Homo sapiens: one gene and its partners. The protein of the gene in region 1 purifies or fractionates together with the protein of each later gene. This does not show direct contact. Each region holds a gene or a part of one and is shown in the gene's direction. Other genes may lie near its edges.

What was found.
Region 2: the proteins of CREM (region 1) and NT5E purify together in Homo sapiens (affinity purification with mass spectrometry, with the first as the bait; one study listed by BioGRID). This does not show direct contact.
Region 3: the proteins of CREM (region 1) and NAMPT purify together in Homo sapiens (affinity purification with mass spectrometry, with the first as the bait; one study listed by BioGRID). This does not show direct contact.

The regions. Positions count from the first base shown.
Region 1 is NC_000010.11:35,210,078-35,213,536, forward strand, and holds the end of CREM (cAMP-responsive element modulator), read left to right. Parts: exon of another isoform or gene 1-1,176; coding exon 1,177-1,321; 3' UTR 1,322-1,578; coding exon of another isoform or gene 1,579-1,726; 3' UTR 1,727-2,876; downstream 2,877-3,459.
Region 2 is NC_000006.12:85,453,064-85,456,718, forward strand, and holds part of NT5E (5'-nucleotidase isoform 1 preproprotein), read left to right. Parts: intron 1-3,655. UniProt on the Homo sapiens protein: Catalyzes the hydrolysis of nucleotide monophosphates, releasing inorganic phosphate and the corresponding nucleoside, with AMP being the preferred substrate. Shows a preference for ribonucleotide monophosphates over their equivalent deoxyribose forms.
Region 3 is NC_000007.14:106,274,965-106,278,619, reverse strand, and holds part of NAMPT (nicotinamide phosphoribosyltransferase precursor), read left to right. Parts: intron 1-1,440; coding exon 1,441-1,597; intron 1,598-3,570; coding exon 3,571-3,655.

The DNA.
Region 1 (3,459 bases):
AAAATCATGTATACATCACATGTGGTTCAGGATGCTAGCTGGCATTACAGAAACTGGTGTTTAGACATTCAACACTGCTTTTTTTAACATATTTGAATGATAGTGTCTGTTTCAGTGCAGGCTTTTTTGACATGAAGGGTGATCTACCTCAAAGGCAGTTATTCTGGAATTGAATCCTCCAAAATGAGGCCAATTAAAGGGTGTCTTCTACATAGGAGTTAAGGGAAGTGGTTGCCATCCCTCCCACCCTGAAAAAAAGAAAAAGAGAAAATGTTGGCTCTATTTATTGTTTTGGTGGGGTTATGTATGAAAATGACTAAGTCAACTCATCTGTTTGTGTTGTTGCTTTGGCTACTGGTCTGTTCTTTCATTTTGGGCTTATAGTGCTTTAAAATTCAATATATTGGATATTAAATGCATGTGATTAGGAAACAGTCTTGAAATATGCCCAGAGTTACTCAGTAGCTTCTTTTTTATAATTTTAATTGTGGTGGTCTCACATTTGTGGGTTTAAATTGTCTGAGTTATTGAGTGTTGTATTTTGTAGCCCCCTTCTTTAATTTTCAGAAGCACTGTCCATTTCATTTCGGTTTATAAAAATGCACATCTTTTGTTTATTGTTATGATTTATCCATGTGTGTTTTCTAGCCAATAAACTGTGTCTTGCAGTCATGATTGATCTTGTTTTACTGAGATTTAGTTTTGAAGACTAAAAATCTCCAGTGTTGATATTTAAGGTTTTTGAGGATTAATTCTTATAATCATTTTTGATCGAATAAAATTAACTCATTATGTCGGAGTATGTGCCTTTTGGGAGACAAAAATAATTAAGAGAATTGAAAGGATCTATAAATGTGTTTGTAGAAATTCCACTTGGGGATGTGGTCCTATTGTAGTTTACTGAAAACAGTTGTGGGCATTGTTACCAGTGGAATGTGTGCCCTAAGAAAACACCATTTGTGATGAATGCTGGGCGAACTGTGTTCTCAAATCATTCCTGTTGTCTAATGGTTATCTTACAAAAAGCATGTGCCTGGTTATGTTTGTTATGTGGCTTTGTACAGTCCTTACCTAGGATCGATTGGCTGTTGAGTTCGGGGGGCAGAAGTGCACTGACCCACTGTGGATTGTGTTGGAAGGCTGTTCCTGTAGTCATTTGCCTTGTGTTGCTTCCAGGGAAGCTGCCCGGGAGTGTCGCAGGAAGAAGAAAGAATATGTCAAATGTCTTGAAAATCGTGTGGCTGTGCTTGAAAACCAAAACAAGACTCTCATTGAGGAACTCAAGGCCCTCAAAGATCTTTATTGCCATAAAGTAGAGTAACTGTCTTTGACTTGGACCTTGTTTACTCTAATCAAGGCAGGAGATGCAGCAGTCCTACTTATTGCCATGTGGACTTGTGGGAAGGACACGTGTGACCCTTAAGAATCCAGTTTGGATTAGTGTTTGAAATTGAATTGGGAATGTTGTTCCAGGATGTGGAATGCAGCCGTGATCACACTTACCGAGCTTACTTTGATCTGTTTGTCAATAGCATGCAAAAAATGCTTTGTTTGCCCTTTGCTTCTGCTTTTTTTCAGGGAAGCTGCCAAAGAATGTCGACGTCGAAAGAAAGAATATGTAAAATGTCTGGAGAGCCGAGTTGCAGTGCTGGAAGTCCAGAACAAGAAGCTTATAGAGGAACTTGAAACCTTGAAAGACATTTGTTCTCCCAAAACAGATTACTAGAAATATTTAACTATGAACTGAAGGCAGCATGTATAGTTGCTTTTGAAGGAATACAATATATAGCTGGCAAGAATGGTGGCTTCTTTTCTTTGTATCATTCATCTTCTTCTTTAATCACTTAACATTCCTAAAATGCTTCACTGTACGTAGTTAAGTCGTAGCTATAACTTCAAATTTTTTAAAAGAGACAAACTGTAAAAAATGTGTGTATTCTTAAAATGCAATATTTGTAAGGCTTGTTCCAATGCCACATACTTGCAGCTCCCATTCTATGTGTCATCAATAGTGTCCTATGCAATAAAATTATTTGCAGGTCTTTAAATCATTTTAGGAAAGGATGATCAAAAATAATGCATCCAGCAGTACAATAAAAGTAAACCACAAAAAAATACCTCAGGAAAGAATAGAAAGAAAGTCTATCTAATGACATGCCTATATGAGAAGAATAGCCTAGATATGAATATATGGCATTTGCAGATTTTTATATTAGTTGCTTTGTTAAAAAAAAAAAGATTGTATTGCTGTCCTTGAATGCCATAGTCAAAGAGAGTTTTTAATAGAACCATGTTGGTTGCACTTTGTAGTGTTTGGTGCTCATTTAAATATCTGAACATTTACTACAGTTTTTAACTCTACTGTGTAATATAAAAGATCTTGCAGAAGTTCTTAGTGTTGGTTTAATATTACCTAATGAAAGTGATGACATATTTTTTATATCTGGAATGAGCCTGTTGGGATCGCATTGCATACCTTCGGGGTACAAGTCAGTTTCTACACTGGGTGCTGATCCTTGCACGCGCCCTTTCTACCATCTCACGGTGGGGATGGCCGCAGGGCTGTGCACCCAGAAGAAGATGGCTGTTAGCGTTTCGGCCTTCATAATGGCCTGAGACTTTCTTTCTGTAGGTGGTCTGGAGCTGTCCGGCTGGTGGCCCCCTATTTTGCCATTTAGCGAACAACCACAGGAATTTTAAAAACAAAAACATCCCAAGATTTTTTCATTTCAAAATGCTTCAAAGTCCACATTAGATCAGATACTCCGCTGTCGGCACATTCAGCTGAGGTTCATTACAATCGAGACTGCAATGTGATCTATGTTTCATCTTGTTTTTATAATAAAAAGCTTCAGGGAACAAGCCCAAAGCCCTCACCACAGGATGCTGTGTCCCCTCATTCCCTGACGTTTCTTGATTGTCTGCCGCGTGGTGGACTCTGCTGTGTTTCCTGCTGTGACTTCTGCTTTAAGGATGTCCCTGCCCCACCCCCCAGTTTCAAGAGTGGATCTGATCAGTGTGTGGTGGGAGACAGAAAATTGGGAGCTGGTTTGCGGAGCATCCAGCTGCTGCTTTCCCTGTACCACTGGAATTCTTTCCCTTATCTGTCACTCCCAGTAAGTAGGGCATGTCATTGTTGGCTTTCTTTAAAAATATTTATTCTTCCTTCAGAGTCGGAGCTCTGAATTTCTTTTTTCTTTTTTTCTTTTAAGACAGAGTCTTGGTTTGTCACTCAGGCTGGAGTGCAGTGGCGTGATCTCAACTCACCACAACCTCCGCCTCCCGGGTTCAAACAATTCTTCTGCCTCAGCCTCCCGAGTAGCTGAGATTACAGGCGTACACCACTACACCCAGCTGATTTTTCTATTTTTAGTAGAGATGAGGTTTCACCATGTTGGCCAGGCTAGGCTCGAACTCCTGGCCTCAAGTAATCCACCTGCCTTGGCCTCCCAAAGTGCT
Region 2 (3,655 bases), on another chromosome or scaffold:
TGCTGTAGAGGACCCAGGGCAATCCTGGAGACCCCCTGGAACCACTACTAGGCAGAAAACTGGGAAGAGGATGGCAAAACTCTCCAGTTAGTGTAGCTGTCTCAGTGGAAGGACTGTTGTCCCCTGAGGCACGAGGAAGACAGCATGGAAGCACTGACAGTATGCGCTTGGCCTGGTTACTTTCTCTGAGCTTCATGTTCCTTAGCTGTAAAACAGGAGTGATAACCCCCATCTTGCAGAGGTTTTGTGAGGAATACATGAGATAATCCCTGCTGGTGCTCACTGAAAGTGAGTTTCATGTGCCCTGGGTGGGGAGGAGGGGAATTGTGAGGAAGGGAAGGTTTGGGTTGTGCATCAGATTATCTGATTCTCACAGCCTGGCACAGTCTACCACCTGCCTGCCCTCTACCATCTTACCTAAGTACCATTGCCTAAACTATTTTTGCTATAGTTACTCATTGAGCAGACTTATGAAATCTCCCCACAGCACAAAACTGAAGGTATCCACCTCCAGAGGTGAGATTCTCACCAAGACAGGCTGTGGGGAAGGTAGCTTTGAGCAGGTCTCTAGGGTCCCCTAGAAAGGTGCCTTTTCTCTGCTTGGCTGCTGCTTCTGAGGCCCTGGCTGCTGAGCCCACTTCCTGCCCATAAGGCTGCAGCCTTAGCCCTAGCCAATTGCTCCTAAATGGGGGAGGCAGCAGCCAGGGTGGGAACCATGGCCCCCGCCTTTAACTCACCCAGGGGACAGGTTAGTCAGATAGATGGTCCTTTGTTCGCCACCCTCCACCTCCCACATAGACAACATTCTAATGTGTTTGATGGACTGCATATAGTTTTGTTTCTACATGCACTTTCAAAACCTTTGTGTGCTTATATTTTATAATGGCATACCCAGTCCTGTTATTTAGCCCTTTCTGTTTCTTACTTTTGTCCTGAACTTATTGTTTTTATGATTTGTCCATGTTGCCCTAGATGCCCTTATACCTATACATCACTGTGAATTGTGCTCTGTGTATTTTACCCATCTCCACGTATTTTACCCATCTGCTCCCTGGCTGATGGGTTTGGAGATGGCGTCTAACACCCTGCCTCCACAAATAATGCTGCTCCAGATATCTTCCTGGATGGTCTCACCAGATGATTTCTACCCAGGAGCAGAATTGCTGGCCACAGGGCATACTTTGAGTACTACAAGACTGGTTTCCTCAATGACTGACATCCTCCATTCTCTTCCACCTACTCCCATCCCCAAACAGGACATGTAAATTTCTATATTTTACCTATATATCATGGCAGTATCCAGCTTTATTGTAGGTGTAAAATACACATTGCTGCTTTATCATGTACTTTTCTAATAACTAGTGAGTTTGGACATTTTTTGATATGTTTGTTAACTTTTTAAGCTTCCTCTTCTCTAATTGCTTATTCATATTCTTTGGTATTTTTTAAATTGGGTTAGCTTTATATTTTTTGACTTTCAGGAGTTATAGGTTTTGATCTGTGATCAATTTTAGACATTGCAAATATATTATGATGATATTAGGTCTATTAATTTTGTCCATGGTATCTTTCATTGAACAGAAATTCTTCATTTCTTGTAATTGAATTAATCTTTTTTTCCTTGTGGCTTGTGCTTTTGAAAGTTTGCCTAATAGTTTGCTAATTTAAAGCTTATCACCTTTAACACTCCTCACTGGAAATTCAGAGATCACCACGGTTCTCTCTGCCTTTTAAGAGATAAATCTACAATCTGTGGCTATGCAATTCACTTCTCAGCATCACCAGTTCCTCATCTATAAAATAGAAGTTTGAACCAGCTTACCTCTGAGGTCCCATACATATTTGAACAACTGGAGCCCTACAGTGAAATGTTTTGATTCAGTGAAGGGACAGGAGGATGGGGCAAAGGTGTAGAGGCAGGAATCTACACAATGGACCAGGTTGGACCAGAGTGAGGTAGCAGGAATCATGGCAGAAGAGGTTGTGTAAACTCTAAAGGCCACCTGAGAAGTTTGAGTTATGTTGCCATGGGCAGCCATGTGGTTTCTGCGTAGAAGACCACTGTGGTATAATAAAAAATAAATATTTGGTCCTTGTCCCCAGTACCTGTCACAGAGTTCCTAAAACCCTAGAAATTTCCTAAGTAATAGAAATGTCCTTTGTGATTCATAATAAACCCCATGATAATACCTGGGTTTATGCTCCTGCAGACTTAGGGTGAGATCCCTAGATAGCTTCAAGATGGAACCAGTCACCAGCAAGTCCAAGAGATTAGGGGATCAAAGAGTTGGAACTTTCGGTACCACCCACCAAAGTCCAGGAAAGGAGGGTGGGACTGGAGATTCAGCTCTACAAAAACTCTTGAACAAGATGTGAGGAGCTTTTTAGTTGCTGAGCATTTGGAGGTTCCTGGAGGGTGCACACCCAGGTAGGGCATGAAAGCTCCGCATTGCCCCCATATCTTGGCCTATCCATTCTTCACTTGGCTGTTCATCTATATCCTTTGTATAGCCTTTATAATAAACCAATGAGTGAGTTCTGTAAGCTGTCCTAGCAAGTTAATTGAAGCCAAGGAGGAAGTAATGGAAACCCCTGATTTATAGCCATTCAGCCAGAAGCACAACCTCAGGCTTGTGATCAGCCTGAAGTCAGGGCAGTCTTGTAGGATTGAGCCCTTAACCTATGGGATCTGACAATGTCTTGAGATAGTATCAGAATTGAATTCAATTATAGGACACTCAGTTTGTGTTTTCTGGAGTACTGTTTGGTGTCTGGGGGAAATCCCACACACATCTGGTCACAGAAGTATTCTGTGTTCAGTGTGACAGTAGAAAAAGCAGTTTGTGTGTATGTGTGTGTTTGTGCTTTTGTATGCTAATGAGATGATCTATGGCTGGGGGCCCTTAGATAGCTTCGGGAAGGGGGCTGGTCGCCAGAAAGACTAATTTATGACTAGAGGGTTAGAACTTTCAGCCCTACCTCTCCCACTTCTAGAGGGTAGATGGGCTACAGATTGAGTTCGGTCTCCAACAGCCAGTGAATTAATCAATCATGCCTTCACGATAAACCTTCATGAAGACCCCTAAACAACCAGATTCAGAGAGCTTCCAAGTTGGTGAACATATTGAGGTGCTGGGAAGGTGGTGCACATGGAGTGGGCATGGAAGCTTTGCCCATCCACTCCCATGCCTTGCCCTGTGCATCTCTTCACTTGCTTGTTCCCTAGTCGTATGCTTTATAATAAGCCAGTAAAGTGCTTTCCAAGTTCTGTGACTCGTTCTAGCCAATTATCAATCCCAAGGATAGGGTCATGGGAACCTCCAATTTATAACTAGTTGGTTGGGAATACAGGTGGCCCAGGACTCTCGACTGGTGTCTGAAGTGGGGGCAGTCTTGTGCATTTGAGCCTTCTCACTTGTGGGATCTGATGCTAAGTCCAGGTAGAGAATGTCAGAATGCATCTGAATTGTTGGACACCAAGTTGGTGTCCACACAGAATTGGGGAATTGGTTGATGTGAGGAAAAACCCTCCCAGCTACATAGGGAAATCACGGTTTTGGAAGATGAGCAGAAAAGGGTGGGAGGGAGAAGACAAGAGAGAAGAGGGTGAGGAAAGAGGCCAGGCAGCAGTCCAAGTGTGAGATGATAACACCTG
Region 3 (3,655 bases), on another chromosome or scaffold:
TTAGTGAATTGACATAAATTTCATTGCTGCAGATTCTGTATTAGCTATCTTGCTTAGCTACTTCTTAAATTTTATTAAAGTGGGATCAGTCCCTGGATTCTAACCTTAATAAGCCCTGACATATACTTCTAGCTTTTGATGAGTCTTCCCTGTACCTTTTAGTATATCACTATCTGTTGTACTTAAGGAAAACAGCTCCAAGTCTCCTGCTTGACTTAAACTCTCAGATCACTTGTTACTATAAAGATTTACCTCCAAGGTTGTCTGTGTGCTGCATTAGGGGCTATTTTTATAGAGTTGCAAGTATGCTACCATTGGCAAGGAAACAGCACATTCATTCAGAATCATCAATGGAAATATATTCATCTTAGGATTCTTGTACTAAGCTATGAAGATTCTTGAGGATAGAGCCAAGTTTTACTGAGATTGAGACTGTGTACCCAAAGACAGCATTGGCTTTCCTGAACTTGAGATCAAAGCTAAACAGGAAAAATGATTTATGTTCACAGTGATCACTCATGAAAAATGGTCTGCAAAGATTTATTCCGCCATTGCCATGATTCACCCTGTATCTTAAACCTCAAGGCACTGTTATTCCTACTCTTGAAATTGGGCAGATACACATTATTCTTCCACTTTATTTTTTATTGGTAAAATGTTTGAATTTATTTCCATGTTTTAACCATATTAAAAGTATAATGAACACTCACTTTTTACTTTTTCTTTCTTAAAAGCAGATAAATTTTTTACATGGTGGCTCTTACCCAAGTTCATGGAAAAGAAATTTGTGCTAAGGAAGACCTCTTCGTATTTTAAACTCATAAGGATTTGATGTTTAAGAATTTATTTTCCAGTTAGGTGGGTGATTTGACAAAGGGAGATTACAAAACAGGATTTTTTTTTACTTTGCTGCTTTACTTTGCTGCCACCGCCGTTGCTGTCATCCAGGTTTTCATAGTGTCACTGTGAAGGCTAAAAGTGATCATCCTCAGTACCTCATTGTACAAGTAAAGTAGTCATGTTAAGTCATTGACTTTTGGAACATACCACATTGAGATATTAGCAGTACCAAATTCTGCTGTCTTTCAGTTCATTCCTTTCTGTTGTGTGTGCCCATTAGGCAGCTGCTTCTCTCTCTCTTCGCCTGGATGAAGGACTGTTCCCCAAAACCAAATGAAATACTTTTCCAACCTAGAGGCCTTGTAGTAGATTTAGTGTGCTTGTATGTAAAATTTAACGCTCTCCTGTGGTTTTAAGATACTGAACTCTGAAAATATCTTAGATACTTATTTTTTATTTGGTATAGCCAGGAAAAGAAACTGGTTAATAGCAAACAAGAAATATAGTTTCTCTGGTTTTGAAATAACTTCAAGCCTTTTCTGTTGTGATTTATAGTCTACTCATCGGTGTTTTCTAACAGAAGTGTATTTCTTTACATAGGTTACTCACTATAAACAATATCCACCCAACACAAGCAAAGTTTATTCCTACTTTGAATGCCGTGAAAAGAAGACAGAAAACTCCAAATTAAGGAAGGTGAAATATGAGGAAACAGTATTTTATGGGTTGCAGTACATTCTTAATAAGTACTTAAAAGGTATTACTTTTCCTAGTATATTTTAAACACTGCTTATTACTCTTAACTCCTTTAGGAGTTCTTTTAGAATTTTTAACAAATCTGTTAATTTGGATGCATTAAATCATATAATTTGGTGTGTGTTTGATGTTCTAAGTATGAGAAAAGTTTTCTGAAATAAAAGGTTTTTTTTTTTTTTTGGAAACCGAGTTTCGCTCTTGTTGGCCAGGCTGGAGTGCAATGGCATGATCTCAACTCAGCGCAACCTCCGCCTCCTGGTTTCAGGCAATTCTCCTGCCTCTGCCTCCCGAGTAGATGGGATTACAGGCATGCACCACCACACCCAACTAATTTTGTGTTTTTAGTGAAGACGGGCTTTCTCCATGTTGGTCAGGCTGGTCTTGAACTCTCGACCTCAGGTGATCCACCTGTCTCGGCCCACCAAAGTGCTGTGATTACAGGCGTGAGCCACCACTCCTGGCCGAACTAAAAGTTTTGAAATAAGTTTAGAAAAGTCATTAATTTTTGGAGGCTAATCTTGTTTGTTATACTTTAGTCATTAATTCAAAGTAAAGGAGTTGTTAATGAACTGGAAACTCCTTTTGAATTATGGTAGCAATCAGAATATTTTTATATTAGCCAGTTTTACCTTGAAGACCTATTTTTAAAAACTACCTGTGTCTCTGGACTTAGTTGCAAATGCATATTAAAACAAAAATCCCCCAATTTCTGTGCTTTCTTATTTGAAAGGCCATTTCTAGGGGGAAAACAGTTCCCAAACACATTATACATGTTGGAAAAGTTTATCTCTAACCTTTTGAATTAAACAATTTCAGAATTGAAAACAGTAAGGTGAATTTTAGGCCAATAACTCTTTTCTATAATCTTGACTCTTTTAAGATTAGGCAGTTCAGATAGTCTTATACTACTGAAAACCTAGCTAGATATCAGAAGTAATTATTAGTGGCAAGAATACCAAAGTTAATACCAAAGTTTTTTTGTTTTGTTTTGTTTTTAGACAGGGTCTCACTCAGTCACCCAGGCTGGAGTGCAGTGGTGCAATCTTGGCTCACTGCAACCTCTGCCTCCCAGGCTCCAGAGATCCTTCCTGCTCAGCCTCTCAAGTAACTGGGACCACAGGCTCGCACCACCATGCCTGGCTACTTTTTTATAGTGACAGGGTCTCACCATGTTGACCAGGCTGGTCTCAAACTTTTGAGCTCTCAAGCGACCCGCCCGCCTTGGCCTCCCAAAATGCTGGGATTACAGACATGAGCCACCACGCCTGGCCCCAAGATACTTTAAACGAGTTTACTAGTTATCTTGTATTAAGTTACCAGCAACTGATAGCACACTTTAATTTAGTCATACAACTTAAGAACTTTGTAAAATATTACTCATTTTTAATTATAACTAAAATGTATTGATTACCTATTCTAGGCCAGCATTATTGTAAGTGGTTCGTATGTCTTAACTCATTTTGTCCTCACAAACATCATATAAGTGGGTACTCGACTTTTATCCTCATTTACGGATAAGAAAAGTTAATTAAAAGTGTGTTGTTTGGGGGGCAGACATTTAGTAATTGTGGAAATTACTGACTTACCAACCCTAAAGATGCCACATTCTTTACGAACGAAGTGAGACGTTTCATTTGGATGTAAGAAGCTTTTGAGTCATCTCAAAGTTGAAAAGTACCAAAATTAATCGAGAGAAAAAAATTAAGTTAATATCATTTTTAAAAGCTGTGCAAGTAATAATTTTTTCTATTACACATCTGCTTTTACAATAAATAAACATTTATACTTTGAGTTATTAAAAGTACAAATTCCTTTTCTGACTCTGCTGTTGACTCTGGGTGAGCATTTAACCTCTTAGTTATATTTTTAATCCATAGAATGGGTGAAATAGCCAAAGATATTAAGTCTGTGACAGTTCAGCAACTCACAGAATGCACCTTTAGAAATGTAAACAGGACATGTATATTCTTCTAGGTAAAGTAGTAACCAAAGAGAAAATCCAGGAAGCCAAAGATGTCTACAAAGAACATTTCCAAGATGATGTCTTTAATGAAAAGGG